3 linked regions of the Homo sapiens genome follow. The protein of the gene in region 1 purifies or fractionates together with the protein of each later gene. This does not show direct contact. Each region holds a gene or a part of one and is shown on either strand. Other genes may lie near its edges.

Region 1 (4,640 bases):
GTGATAACATAAAGGTCTTATACATTGCAAAAAAAAAAAATCTCAATTTTATTTCATCCTGACTTTCCATAACATGCATTACATTTCAATGAGACTTTAAAAATAAGTCTGAATGGCAACTAGAAGAACCAGGATTCCAGTAGACTTCCTTAACCTTTTGAAATAGCTTCCATGACTACAGCACTGCACCATTATCAGTTGGTTAATAAATGGCAAGAGCTGGCACAGCATGGTATTCCTGGGTGAGCAGAAACAATGAGAAATGTCTCACTCATTAGTTGTGAGGATGCAGACTTCACAGAAGCACTTTGTAATATATGGTTTGTTCACCAAACCATGTTGATTGATTGTAAGCCACCTTGGGAGTAGATGAGAACGGCAAAGACCTGTGTGTGGGTGGGAAGGTGGGGCGCAGAGAGCAGGATTATAAAGTAAGCATGGTGAGACTATTAAGTTATTAAGCTTTATCTGATCACCTAGCGGCACTGGGCCCCACAGCCCCGCTCCCTCACTGCTTCATTAAGTTTTGATCCTGGCTATTACATGTGGAACTATGTGAGCTGCATGCATTGGGAGAGCAGGTATGGGAGTGGGAATTTACACGGCTGGGGGCTCTAATACAAAATATTTAACATGATGTCCTGTGAAGAAAAGCATGGCTTTCAAGCTCACTCTATCATAATGTCTGCCTTTTTTTGTTCAACTGGGAACAATTTAGAAGCCCAGCAAAATTTGGAGGATGACCTAAGAAGGTGACCTGGAGTCAGCACTGAGCCTTCTGGTTGGAAAACAGTCTAGGGCCCATCCCTTTGCTATCTTTAAAGCCTCAACTCACTCCCCCTGTATTTATTGGCTTGCTCTGAGCTGTGCTTGACTGGACGCCAGTCTCTAGGACCCAAGAATTTAGGATTCCTTGTGGAACATCGTCAGTGGAAGGGGCCAGGAGGATCTTAGCAAGAGGAACAGTGAACCACCTTCCCCATAAGCCCAAATCACTTTCTTGTGTAAAAATAGAGAATGGCTGCTGCTTAAATGTCTAATAAAGAAACAAACATTGTCATACCCCTATTTCTCTGTCACATGACCATATTGAGTTGCTACAATAAGGTACTGTCCACAAAAAAAAAGTAGTACTGAAAGTCAAAGTTCTGGGCAGCTTTGTTTAAGATATTTTTTAAAGCGAGTCCTTTTATACTATCTGGGCTCTTATACAAAGAAAAAAAAACTATGTTATTGTTTAAATGTGCAATTTGATGTGGGAATTAGGACCGCTGCCTCCTAGTCTTCTCTCCCTTTGCCCACTGAAGACACTTATTTGGAGGGACTCTTCCCCAAGAGCTAGATGATGTTTTTCTCAGAAAGTGCCAGCAGAGGGCAAAGTGGTACTTACTGTTGGCAGCCTTCTGAAACCTTGACTGGCTGATGCCTTTTCTCTTCTCCTACTCAGCTGGTATTTCTGGGTTAGATGCCCAGTTTCTTCTGTTATCAGGAAGTATCTCCATTTAGAGGTAAGAGTTTCCTGGGTTAGTTGAAATCACTTTCTCCTTCATGGCCAGAAGGCTGGCAATGCCTCCATTGAAGAGGGGCCCTGCAACCATCATTATCTGTTGGAAAACAAAAATGAGTAAGTTATCTTTATTATTTGCAACAATATAACTCCTCACTGCTCTAACAGTAAGGGAGAGTAATTGGGTTTACTAATCAAGTGGCATTTAGCAGGCCTTCTGAATTAAAAACAAATATACATATTTAAATCAACAGGAAGAACAAATGTTAATAAATGTTTTCCTTTTATGTAAATCCAAACTAATCCTCTGAAAGGACAAGTTCACATCTTTGGTTGCATGATGAAATCCACTTGAGGCTTCTTTTTTTTTTTTTTTTTTAACTTCAGGGCCTGGACTCTAGTCTGAGGGGAAGCCTGGACAATGGGTTTTTTAAAGGTCCCTGGTGATTCTTACATGCATCCAGGGTTGAGACCCACTGTTCTAAAACATAGCCCTGATCTGTCATCTTCATTTTCCACCCATTTCTTTCTTTCCAAATATATCTTTAGAGGGATTGAGATGCCTTCATGTAGCTTTTCACATGTTCCTTTTTTACATGTAATTTACTACTTCCCTCTGTACTCCTCCCCATAGAACCTTCTCTCGTCACAGTCCTGTGCCTCTTTAAAGACTCACCCCCAATGCCACCTTCCCTACATGTTGTTCTTTTCCTCCTGCCCCTAACTTTCCCATCTAGAGGAATTACAATATCTTCTTAGCTTCTAGTAGATGCTGTGTATTGAATGAATTGCTCTGATTTACCAATTCTTTAAGGCTAAATAAAACTTACTTTAGGTCAGTGCCTTTCTACACAAATTAGTTTTTGAGTTTAACATGCACAGCAATATGGATAGTAAACGTTATACATTTAATACAGATAATTCGGGGGTTTTAGCCCAGGAAGCATTAAACACCTGTAACTCTCCTGCTCCTAAACTCCGCTGCCCCCTAGGCTTGACTTCCAGGGTGTCAGGAGCACTTTTCAGGCAGGATGCTGTGCATTGGTCACCTGCTCTATTCTTGCACTCCTGGCCTTGAATTGCTGTGGCTCACGCTAAGCCCAAGTGATTCTCCATGTTCTCATCCTAACTCCTTCCATTCTAGCCTCACACTTCCAGGGACTGACCAAACTACATGTTTTTAGTTGTTCTGGGTACTTCTCAGTACTTTATTTCATGTGGATATTTCCTGCCTCAGACCATGAAGGTACACTCCCCTCACCATCATGTTGCAGGTACAGAAACAGACTAGAACAGTGTATGTCTCCTTTCCTTCCTCTGGGCCATGGCATTAATTAACTCTGTAGATTTGACAATAATGGCAAAATTAAACAACTCCCCTCACCACCAGATTCTGTATAGCAACTAACTGTTATCCTTATTATAATGCCATATTTCATGTTTTCTGAATACTACGTATGTGTTGCATTTGCTGGTGTTTTAAACCAAATTACAAGTTCTAATTGGCCTTAGTAGGCCCATGACCAAGTCCCATTTTGCGGACTTAACAGTAATTTCTTGTTAGGAAAAATGAGATTGGATCCTGGTACCTGCACTGTTTTTACAGTTGTGACTATCACCATCCAACTCATGACAAGCAATGTAACTTCTCATTTTCTTTCTGGTAACTTGACAGCATAAGCATCTTTACAAAACAAAAGCAGAACATACTAAGCAGATTCGCCCTTAACATACCATCAAGTACACATGGAGGTGACGAGGATGGACTAGGATGTGTTCCCTCACCAGATGTAGCTCAGCCTTTTTCCAGGCTTCCTCGGACGTAGTTAAAACCGAGCCCATCTGTTTTTTGTTTTATCAGGAAGCTCTTGCCTTTCTAAGCTAGCTTCTTGCAGTCTAGACTTCTCTTTCCTTTCCCTGTAAATGCAGGTGGCCTGGACCCCAGATTTGTCCCCTCTTTATTCTCCATTACATATTTGTTGTTTCAGTGTTTTTATATTTTCCCAAACCACTAGCCAAGTATATATTAGAGTTACATTGCTGTTCCACTTAAGATTAGCTGAGTCTGAAAATCTGACCCCAAGAGATTTCACTTTGGTGATTTAGGGGTAGTTTAATGAACATGTTGTGTTGGGCTTTAAAGAATTAGGACTTTAACAGGGAAGTAAAGGAAAAATAGGATTTAAAGGGGATTGGAGCCAAACTTTAAAAGAACTTTAGTGACATGCCAGTTAGTGAGGACTTATCCTTTACCTTCCTATTCACACAAACACAGCCATAATTCTCTGCCCATTTTGTGGGTAACATTGGATTAGGTTGGTGAGGAGAGAGAGAAAGGCAGCTGCTAAAGATAACTGAGGATTTCCTGCTAAATTCACTGGGAGAGCAGCATTAGCCAGTAATGAGCCAAGCGGAAAGGCTTTAGAAATTAGTATTGAAGAAATGCAATAAATACAGTTTTAGAAAGAATTTGAAGTGTGGCTAGACATATAGGTGAATTAGTGGGGTGGAAATGCAGGAGATAAATGAGGGCTAAAGAAAGAACTTTGGGAAATACTTAGAGCTTGAAATACTCTGAAGGGAAAGATTATCAATGTGTGACTTATAGAGGGCTAAGAAAAATGCTACCATTTAGGACAGCAGTCCCCAGCCATTTTGGCACTGGAGACTGGTTTCGTGGAAGACAATTTTTCCACGGACCTGGGTAGTTTCCGGATGAAACTGTTCCATCTCAGATCTTTAGGCATTAGATTCTCGCAAGGACTGGGCAACCTAGACCCCTCACTTGCACAATTCACAAGAGGGTTTGTACTACTATGAGAATCTAATGCTGCTGATCTGACAGGAGGCGGAGCTCAGGTGGTAATACTGGCTCGCCCCCGCTCACGTCCTGCTGTGCTGCCCAGTTATTAATAGGCCATGGACTGGTCCACAGCCTGTGGCTTGGGGACCCTTGATTTAATTGCTCAATGGAGAAAAAGGATAGTGAGGAGTTAAGCTAGGCGTTCTTTGGCCGCAAGATTTTTTAAAATCGTATGTCCATGCCACACCCCAGAACTATTAAATATGAATCTCTGGTAATAGGGCCCAGCCAATGACTATTAAAGCTCCCCCAGGTGATTCCAATGTCATA
Region 2 (4,995 bases), on another chromosome or scaffold:
TTGAAAAAAGAAATATGTATATTATAATACAAGAGTCACAATCAGTGTGGCAAGCTACTCTTTGTGAGAGCTCACTGTGGCTCTCAGTCTGGTGTGGGGAGTGGCAGATCCACGTTTCTTATCTGTCTCATTCTGGGACTTTTGCATAGGGAATGGAATTATCACATACTGCAGTAGTTATTTTTAGTGAAGTTATTTTTTTGTTTGTTTTCTTCAAACAAATGTTCACCATGTCTGTTGAACTTGCATAGGGTAGGAGTATCATGTGAAGCAGGTACGCTCCCTGGAGTGTTAATGCCAAGTGGCAGTGTGACATGTCACTGTATTTCTTTACTGTCTCTCTTCCCTGCCAAGACTACATACCTTCAAGGGTATGTGCTGTTTGACTTTTCATCACCATATCTCCAACTAACACTGTTGCTGACTTAGACTGACTATGCAGAATACTGTGTTGGATACTAGGAAATAGAGAAATGGATACAACTTCTCTTTAGGGAGTTTATACTTCAGTAGATACAAGGGGAAAGGGTTGAAAGACCATTGTATGGACATTTAGTCTTTCTAATATACTAAGTACTTCCATGTGCATCAGTTCATTTTACAATTTTAGGTTAGAGCTGATAGAAAAATAAATGATTGTTTCTCTAACTGCCATCTGGTCCCTGGCACTGAAATGGGTCTCCCTGTCTTATTCAGTCATTCTCTCTTACTTCAAGATAGACTGGAATTCAACTGAGATTGAAGTTATGGAATGACAAAACCCTAAGATGTTACACACCGGCTGCCTCCTCAGACTTATATAAGGTTACTACAACAGAAGCCAGTTGGGAATGTTAAATGAGTCAGACCTGGCCTCTAGACAGCAACTGCACCCTATACGAGTTTAGATTGTTGCTAGGCTTTTTTTCATTTAATTCCAAAGCATTTGGAATCCTTTTTTTTTTTTTATTGAGAACTGCACATCTTTCTCTATGTCTTTATCCATATTAAAATCGGTATTTATGCAGTACTGTCAAAATTTGAGAGATTTCCAAGGTTCTACCTTATTTTTGGTATGCTCCCTTAAAAAATAAATCACACTTTTGCGAAGTGAAGGTTACAGGAGGAACAGTAGATGCAGTAAAAACAGATACTATCCTAGCCCTAATTTCTTCTTGTAAGAAATAGTATTTGTATTTGAGATCAATTGGGAGCTAAAGGTAAAGTTAAATGTCATCATCAAGATAGAACCTTGGCCTCATTAGCACCTAATGTTAAATAAGGCAGAGGCTATTTATTGTCTGGGGCTAATAGTTTCTGTCAACATTTGAGTGCCCTGTGGCAGTGTTTTTGGTGCAAAGAAATTGTGTAAAGTAATGAAAGTACCTGTTGCATGTTTTAGAGGATCTTAAGCCATTAGGAGTCATTAAGTTAAATTCTAGGTATCTAAGATTATAAGTGATACAAAGCAAGTAGCTCTGATCCAGGGTGGTACAGATTCTTTTAATTGTACCTTTAAGCAGAGAGGACCTAACACTCTGAGGAATTAAGTTTAGTTGAATTTCTAAGGGATTTTAAAGGAAAGCTTTAATTAACATCGTATTGGAGAAACTAAGACAAGGAATAATACTAATAAAAAGGAAAATAGACATGTACCTCAATTAAACACCAAACAACTATTCAACTAGGCATTATTCATGAACCATTAGGTTGAGAACTTTATGGGCAAAAGATGAACATATTCAAGGGGACAGATTTGTTTCCTGTCTTCCAACAAGTGTTTTCATTTAAATTTTACTCAGATCAGAATTTACCAAAAATTTAGACATAGGAAAAAAAAATGAGGATTGTCACAACTAAAGAGATGTATGTTTTTCCCCCTGAACAAGTTGCTTTGAAATATCGTAGGAGCCAATTGTTACTATTTTGTTACTGTTTCCATTTCCCATCAGCTAATTCTGAGGTAATGAGCTCTTTAATTTTGTTGTCAACTTTTGATTATCTTGTACAGATTATAAACCTTTTATGAATTATCTCAAGGGCTTTGATCACATCTTGATTTCAGTGTGCAACCCAGCCTGCTACCCAGCCTGCTTCTGGGCCATGGTTTCCTTTGTTAAGTTTATCTATGTACATTTAGAAAAGTAATTTTAACATTGGTTTGGCAAAAAGTTTTAAAATGCACCTGATGGCCAAATTCTTTTATGTAAGCCAAAACTAAGTGTATTTATGCATCCATTTTGGCAAATGGGAGATAAAAGGTTTTGAAAATATGCTATGTAGGTGGCCTTTATGACATTGTGATATCAGTGTTTGACTCTCATTGTGTATGTTATGCAGGGGCAGGACTAGGGTGAGGCAAGAGATATGCCTAGGGTACAAACTTTGAAGAAGCACTAACTCTCTCAGTCATGCAAATCAGAGCAAAATTTTGTGTTCTAGGCATCTGGTTTGCCTCACCCTAGTTGCAATCGATTCCATGTCAGGTTCCTAGAATTTTGGCTAAAATATTAATAACAATATGAATAGAATGGTTATTATGTGTTAGCCACTGTAGTAACTATTTTATATGCAGTTAGTACTCTTAATCTGGGGAAGTGAGTACTTCAGTATTTCTGTTTCTCACTAGTTTAGAAATAGAGATTTACAAAACTGAAATGATAGCATCCAGCTGAGCAAAAATTCAAACTGAGGTTTTTTTCCTTCCAAACTGAGCACTATCTCCTGCTGTATACTGTCTATCTATGTGTAGAAAAAGTTACTTCTTACCCATTTTATAAATTTCTGTATTAAGAAACAGTACTCTGGCCAGGCACAGTGGCTCACGCCTGTAATCCCAGCACTTTGGGAGGCTGAGGCGGGTGGATCACCTGAGGTCAGGAGTTTGAAACCAAACTGACCAACATGGTGAAACCCCCATCTCTACTAAAAATACAAAATAGCCAGGCGTGGTGGCAGGTGCCTATAATCCCAGTACTCGAGAGGCTGAGGAAGGGGAATCGCTTGAACCTGGGTGGAGGTACGCCACTGCACCCCAGCCTGGGTGACAGAGTGAAACTCTGTCTCAAAAAAAAAAAAAAAAAAAAAAAACAGTACTCTACAAAATATGTAAGTGCATACACTTGACATGGTGCAGTTAACTTTTAAGATGAGCTGGAAGTCTCAGCAGCACCAAGTTGAAGATCCACAAGCTTGTGCTGCTAAGTACCCTAGAGTTGTCAGACATATTAAAGAAGAAACCAAAGGATAGAGAGGTGAAATGACTTGTTCAGAGACAAAGATAGTTTATGAATGACAGGACCAGAATTTGAGCCCATGCTTTGAGACTTTAAATGCTTATGCTTTTTCCCTGTATCTTTCTGCACAAATTGTCCATTTAATATTTTTAAAGCATATATATATATATATATATATATATATATATATATATATATATATATAAACGATACAATGGTAAAGTGCTATATACACTTACCATTAACAAGAGATTGCTTCTAGATGTCCCTAAGTGTAAAATTCTGTAAGTACTAAACTGACAGTAGTGTATGTTCAGGGAGGTTAGGTTCCACTTAACTTTATTAAGAAAACTGGAAATGGAAGACATTGAATTATAGAAGATGTAATTTGCAAGTCAAGGAGAGAGATGTAGGTATATCCTTAAGACATCAAGCTCATTTTACTCTAAGTAGGATCACTGACTTACCCTATTCCTCTGCCTCCCTTTTTCCTAGCTTTCTCCTCTAAATCTTGGTCTCTTGTTTGGAAGTGACTAACAGCATTTTGGCATGAGAAAGCCCTAAAAAGGTACGTAAACTGTGTCAGCAAATGTTAACCCCACCCCGCTTTGTTAAATGGCCAGACTACCATCTATACAGTCTTTGTAAAAATCCATTTTCTCTAAGAGTTTGATGAGTGATTTTTTTTTTTTTTTTTTTTTTTTTCTTTTTTGAGACAGAGTCTCGCTCTGTTGCCCAGGCTGGAGTGCAGTGGCACGATCTCGACTCACTGCAACTTCCGCCTTCCAGGTCCAAGCAATTCCCTTGCCTCAGCCTCCTGAGTAGCTGGGACTACAGAAGCCCACCACCGCATCTGGCTAGTTTATGTATTTTTAGTAGAGATGGGGTTTCACCATATTAGCCAGGCTGGTCTTGAACTCCTGACCTCAAGTGATCCACCTGCCTTGGCCTCCCAAAGTGCTGGGATTACAGGCATGAGCCACCGTGCCCAGCTGATGAGTATGATTCTCTGTGTTATATTATTGAGAGAAAGCAAGGAATTGTCAGTTAATTGAAATCCTGGGTTAACCAACTCTTGGGGAGGACCTCCTTAATTAGAATTTGTAAATAATTTTTAATGATTTGATGCTTAAAGAAAAATTTGTCTTAAAGAAATTCCTATTAGATTACTTTGGAAAGTATAGCTGATAACAATAATGAAGTCTTATTATCACTGAATTTTGGTTCCAGTGATAATGTGGCTGGGTCCAGGCTTTGTTAATAGAATTAATTTGATTTTTGTGTTTGTTTTTATTTTGCTAGGCATGCTATTTGAAAAGTATATTAGCAAGACTGATTCAATTTATAAATTGCCCATCTCAACTCATGAATTTGGTCATTCAGCAAACATTAAGTGTCTGTTATGTGCCCGCTATGCTGACTGTAATGTCTCTATTGGGAAGAAGAAACACACTTATAAATGGGAACATAAACACAGGATTCTGCTCACTGCTAGAATGAACACACTTCTCTTAACTGAATGTTCATGCACATTTGTTGGAGATCCAGCATACATCAGTCAGTCAATCAATCTTTCCCTTTTTAGAGAGAGAAATTATAGGAATTATAAGAATTTAGGGCCAAGAGGGCTGAGTACTGGATTTTACTAGAGAGAAAAGCAAGACAAAAAGACCTGCCTGCCTACAAACGTTTTAAGTGTAGAATTACTTAAAAAGCTGTTTTTCTAACTGAGAAGTGCCTATACCAGTACCAAGAGCTTCTGTTGTTCCTCTCCTTTCAT
Region 3 (4,995 bases), about 12 Mb from region 1:
TCCGTTCTGACCATGTCTCTTGTTCACAGAATTTTAGCCCATTAGAGCAGGAAGGGCCCACAGAAACCATCTAACCCAACAACCTCAGGAAAAAATTAAGCCCGAAAGAGAAATGACTTGTTGCTCAAAGTCCTACAGTTGGCTAAAAACACAAAAGTTCTTTGAGGAAAAGTGGAAGAAACTCAAGGAAAAAAGAAATCCATAGAAAGAACCCAAAGTAGTCACTGGGAGTTGTCCATGGCCTAGGGGCTCTAGGTTACATTATGACCACCAGGCACCATCCCTCATTCCAAGCTACCTGCTCCTCTGGCCCCCTAGGAACCACTCTGTAGCCAGTTCCAGCCATTCAGTCACTTACTGCCCCAGGGTGAATCCGATGAACTTGTTCCTGCTCATCTCCAAGAAGTGCTCAATGTCCTTCTGTCTGAGAGGATGGTGGAAAGACCAATCCCAGAGAAGGGAAGAAAAGCAAACTTTGAGAGAGAAAAACTTTCCGGGCTCCTATCCCTCCAATCAGAGGACTGGAGCAGTGGAAAAAGGCAGCAATCAACAGAAGGAATTTCAAACCCAGGAGTTCTGACTGCCAGACCAACTTAACGAGCCTTGAATACATAGACTACCCCATCTTGGGCCTTTGGAGACTGAAACCCCGAAGCATAGGGGTCCCTGATGCTATCAAACCTACCTGACCTTTGGGGCCCAGGGCAGGCCCTTGGGAAAAGCCACCCGCTCAGCAGAGAGGGGTGCCTGTGAGGGTGGAGGTGGCACCAGAGGGTCCTGCTCTAGCAGGTCTAGCTCTCCATCCAAGGTTCGTTCTCCATCACCAGCAGACTCCTCTTCCTCCTCTGTGGCGGGCTCCTCAGTCTTGAAGAGATCCCTTTCATTGTAGATGTCCAGGCTGTCCTGCTTAGTGAGGAGTTGCTGGAGGGGAAAGAAGGGAGGGTAGGCATGCAGAGATCTCACTCTGGGCATCCTTGTCTGAGGCCACCCCATATCCACAGGCCTCCACATTTCAGGGAACATGGAATCTGAACACAGCCCTTGCGAAAACATCCAATTCCCCACCTTAACCTACTGTCCCCACCCGGCCCAATAACAGGACAAGAAGTTCTCAGGTAACCCTGCCATTAGCCAGGGAACATAGCATAGATAATCCCAAAGTCACAATTACTTAGCTTTCAGAAAGCAGTGATGCCTTTTTTTGCCAGCACTTTCCTTCCTAATTATGCTCTGCTTAGGTGAACATTCAATTAGTTTGCCTTCTGTGAGCATACACCAGCTGGCTGACTGAGGAAGAGGAGGACAGAAGCTTGCTGCTAGGCAGAGGGAAGCAAGTTTGGAATTTTAAATCTTGTGACAAAGAAAAAAAGATTGGACAGAAATAGGCCAAAAAGTTAACAGTGACTGTCTCTGGTTGTTAAGATTGTGGGTGATTTTTCTTTTCTCCCTTCATCACATTTTTATATTTGTTCCAAATTTTCTACAATGAGTAAGCATTACTTTATAAAACAAAAATAAAGTTAAAAAATTTTATTGCAGATAATGGAGACTGGATTACTGAGCACTACTATCTAGCCCTGTTGATAAACTGAAGTGGGTCAGGCAGGGGAGTTTGTAAGAACATAGTCAGATCTCAGTATAACTTTTCATTCTGACCTTTTCAGGACAGCAGACTATAGTCATGTGCTGCACAACGATGCTTCAGTCAACAATGGACTGCATATGTAATTGTGGACCCATAAGATTATAATACTGTATTTTTATTGGCCTTTTCTAGGTTGAGATACACAAACACCATTGGGTTACAATTGCATATGGTGTTCGGTATAGTAACCTGCTGTACAGGTTTGTAGTCTAGGAACAATAGGCTATATGCCTAGGTGTGCAGTAGGCTATACCATCTGGGTTTGTGTAAGTACACTCTATGATGTTTGCTCAGTGACAAAATTGCATAATGACACATTTTTCAGATTGTATCCCTGTCGTTTAGTGTCACATGGTTATATACATAGACCCCTACCCAGTCATCTCTTAAATGTAAGCCTTTGGTTCCAGGGCCAGTTAAGAGTGTGGCTGGCTGACAGTAAAACTTCCTGGTGCTTCAAAATAGTAAAATGCCTTACCCCAGAAAAATGGATTTGCTTGGAGACCTGTTCCGGTATCCTGGGTCCCTATCCCCAGGATTATACCCTTAATTGTTATTCAGAATGTAAGGAACTCCAGGCACTGAGGTCCAGGCCAATGATTCTGTAGCAAGACATGGCTATATATGACATGATATCACAGTGTCACATCACAACAGCGCAGGGGGCTGTCAGGGCTGGGGGACAGAGGCCAAACTAGAGACCCTAAGATTTCAGGTTGGTCATAGGGCCAACCTGGGCAGGATGAGCCGGGTCATTTACTGCTTTTTCCTACCACACCCAGAGTAACTTAGAATCTTGATTTTTGGCCAGTCGGTGTCCCAATACCATTGTCTGCTTCAGTCCATACCCTTCGAGAGCCACGGCGGCCTCGCAGCTTGGAGGGTGGGGGTGCCAGCTGAGACTCTCCCAGGTCAAGAGTGTAAGAGGGCGGGGAGGCAGCACGCATGCTCTTCACCACCTGGATACTGTCTTCAGCCAGTGGAGGCAGGCCCAATTCTGCCCGCTTCTGTACTTTGAGAGTCTGCAGATGCTCAAATCCACCGAGGGTAAACTAAGGAAGAAACAGGAAAGGGGCAGAGAGAGAGGAAGGAAGGGAAGTAAGAGAGAGCCAAGGTCAGGGAAACATGGATGAAAAGAAAGGGCCACAACCTCCAGTCCCTTCAGACCTTTTCCTTAATAAGGAGGTAGTAAAACATAAAGAGGCAAATATGATTACCATCCCCACGGCAACTGAGGAGCTCAGGGGTCAGGATAAGGCATTATTTACTGCCCCAGTATGGGAAATATCACAGAATTTAGGAAAGGAATTCCTGCGGGCCTCCTCAAAAAAAAAAAAAAAGAAAAAAAAGAAACTATCGACTTTTTTAAGGAACACCATCCAGGTGCTATAAACCCCCAGAGTCACTCAATTTCCTCTGCAGTCAAGAGGCAGTTCCCCCTATTAGGCCTGCCTTGTGAGATGGGAGCCAAAAATGAAGGATCAGGTTGAATAACTAGTAACAGAAATGTAACCACATATTTATAAGAACTTCATTATTTTTTAAAAAGCAAATCCTGGCCAGGCACAATGGCTCATGCCTGTAATCCCAACATTTTGGGAAGCCAAGGTGAAAGGATTGCTTGAGACCAGGAGTTCAAGACCAGCCCAGGCAACACAGGGAGGCCTGTCTGTAAGAAAAAATTATTTTTATTAAAAAAAAAATACAAAACCTCTGTTTATCTGGAGGGAGGGCAGGCACTCACCCCAACCTTTTACAGCTAGAGAAATTGAGGCACAGAGAGTTGCCCAAAGTTTCTCAGTATCAGCAAAGCCCAGATCTACCAACTTTCAACCAGTGTTCTCTCCATCAAACATTGGCTTTAATAAGAGAAGGTACCACTGACATCCCCAATTTATGGAGTGGCATCTCCCATCCATCCAATAGAAACATGAAACCCATTCTAACATAGAACATCTGATGTCTCTAGGACAGCCTTGTTGCCCCTCCATATTAGCAGTTGGCTAAGGGCTGCCTGTTCTGCTCCCTGGATCCAGCCTCCTGGAATGAGACTAGAAGAAACTGAGGTGGCATAGGGCATTGCTGATCTGATAATGTGGGAGTGGGGAGAATTACTCACCATGACCACCTTCCAGAGCAGGAGCAGGACCTTCTTTATGGGGAAGTGAGGAGCCAGGCCACTGCAGAACTTGGTAACCATGGAGAAGAGTAAAAGGGCAAAAGGCTCCTCATTATGCATGGAGAAGCCTAGGGGTGAGGAGAGAGGGGAGTGAGAAAGTGAGGATGAGGCAGCTAAAACCTTTTTCATGTAACCCTGATTCTGGACACACACAGGAAGGCACTCACCTCCCCTGAAGAATACCAGAGTACTTGGTCCTGAGAAGGAGGCTTAGCCCCCAGAAGGAAGCCCCTCAAGGGCAGGAAGGGACGCCATGGAATTAAAATGGCATAGGCCCCAGAGCTTAGGGTGACGCTTTGGGGTTGGATGCCAAACTAGAAGTAACAATAATGAAGACATTGCTTTCTGGCTAAAGGACTCAATGTCATTCACTTTTCCACATCAATAAATATATTTTTAAAATCCCATAGTCCTTCATATCCTATCCCTGTCAGATGACAACACCAACTTACATTTGAACAGAACTCAGTTTTCAAGGTGATTCAACTCATTTTTTCATGTGGGACTCGTGATAGAGTGGGAGAGGAATGGCTATCCCCACTTATAACCAAGGAAACCAAGGCATAGAGAAGTTACATGGCTGGTCTTAGCTCATAGATACAGGGCGGCAATCAAGCCCAGCCCTTGTGCCTGCCATGCAGTATCTGTGTCCTAAAAGAAAGGACATTAATTTTAAAAAAGAAAACAAAAGAAAAAACGACTGTCTGCCTCTCCTAGGCAGATGCTCTGCTTCCCCTCTCCCATTAGCACCCCATCCACACCTTCCTCAAGTGCCATTTCTTACTTAATTCAGTGCGGAAGGTCTCCCGGGCTGTTCTCCACCCACAGGGGTCTGTCTCTCGCTCCAGGCGAATATTTTCCACCATTAGGTACATAACACTCAGCAGCACCCTGGGGTTACAGAAGAGTCACAAGAGGTTCCCAAGGCAATTCCCAGCCCATAGTCACAGACCTCAGAGATGGTCTCTGTGGGAAGCCCAACCCAGTGAGATTAGCTACAGGGCAACTTCCTAATGGTCTGAGTCATCTGGGATTTGGGGAAAAGGTAACCCAGGTGCTAATCATCTGCCCTGTTCCAAGCCCATAGTTAGCCCCACTCACCTGAGCTCTGTGCTATCAGCTATGGAGACAGCTGGTTTCCGAAGGGCACTGCTACAGGCCTGGCTGTTGC

Evidence for each region.
Region 2: the proteins of CTTNBP2 (region 1) and PDCD10 purify together in Homo sapiens (affinity purification with mass spectrometry; one large-scale study listed by BioGRID and IntAct). This does not show direct contact.
Region 3: the proteins of CTTNBP2 (region 1) and STRIP2 purify together in Homo sapiens (affinity purification with mass spectrometry; one large-scale study listed by BioGRID and IntAct). This does not show direct contact.

Annotation. Positions count from the first base shown.
Region 1 is NC_000007.14:117,712,722-117,717,361, reverse strand, and holds part of CTTNBP2 (cortactin-binding protein 2), read left to right. Parts: exon of another isoform or gene 1-1,479; intron 1,480-4,640. UniProt on the Homo sapiens protein: Regulates the dendritic spine distribution of CTTN/cortactin in hippocampal neurons, and thus controls dendritic spinogenesis and dendritic spine maintenance.
Region 2 is NC_000003.12:167,724,189-167,729,183, reverse strand, and holds part of PDCD10 (programmed cell death protein 10), read left to right. Parts: intron 1-3,710; exon of another isoform or gene 3,711-3,783; intron 3,784-4,995. UniProt on the Homo sapiens protein: Promotes cell proliferation. Modulates apoptotic pathways. Increases mitogen-activated protein kinase activity and STK26 activity. Important for cell migration, and for normal structure and assembly of the Golgi complex.
Region 3 is NC_000007.14:129,454,141-129,459,135, reverse strand, and holds part of STRIP2 (striatin-interacting protein 2), read right to left. Parts: intron 4,995-4,995; coding exon 4,926-4,994; intron 4,716-4,925; coding exon 4,609-4,715; intron 3,893-4,608; coding exon 3,765-3,892; intron 2,698-3,764; coding exon 2,494-2,697; intron 2,437-2,493; exon of another isoform or gene 2,124-2,436; intron 1,314-2,123; exon of another isoform or gene 1,054-1,313; coding exon of another isoform or gene 922-1,053; coding exon 686-921; intron 425-685; coding exon 359-424; intron 1-358. UniProt on the Homo sapiens protein: Plays a role in the regulation of cell morphology and cytoskeletal organization. Required in the control of cell shape. Calmodulin-binding scaffolding protein which is the center of the striatin-interacting phosphatase and kinase (STRIPAK) complexes.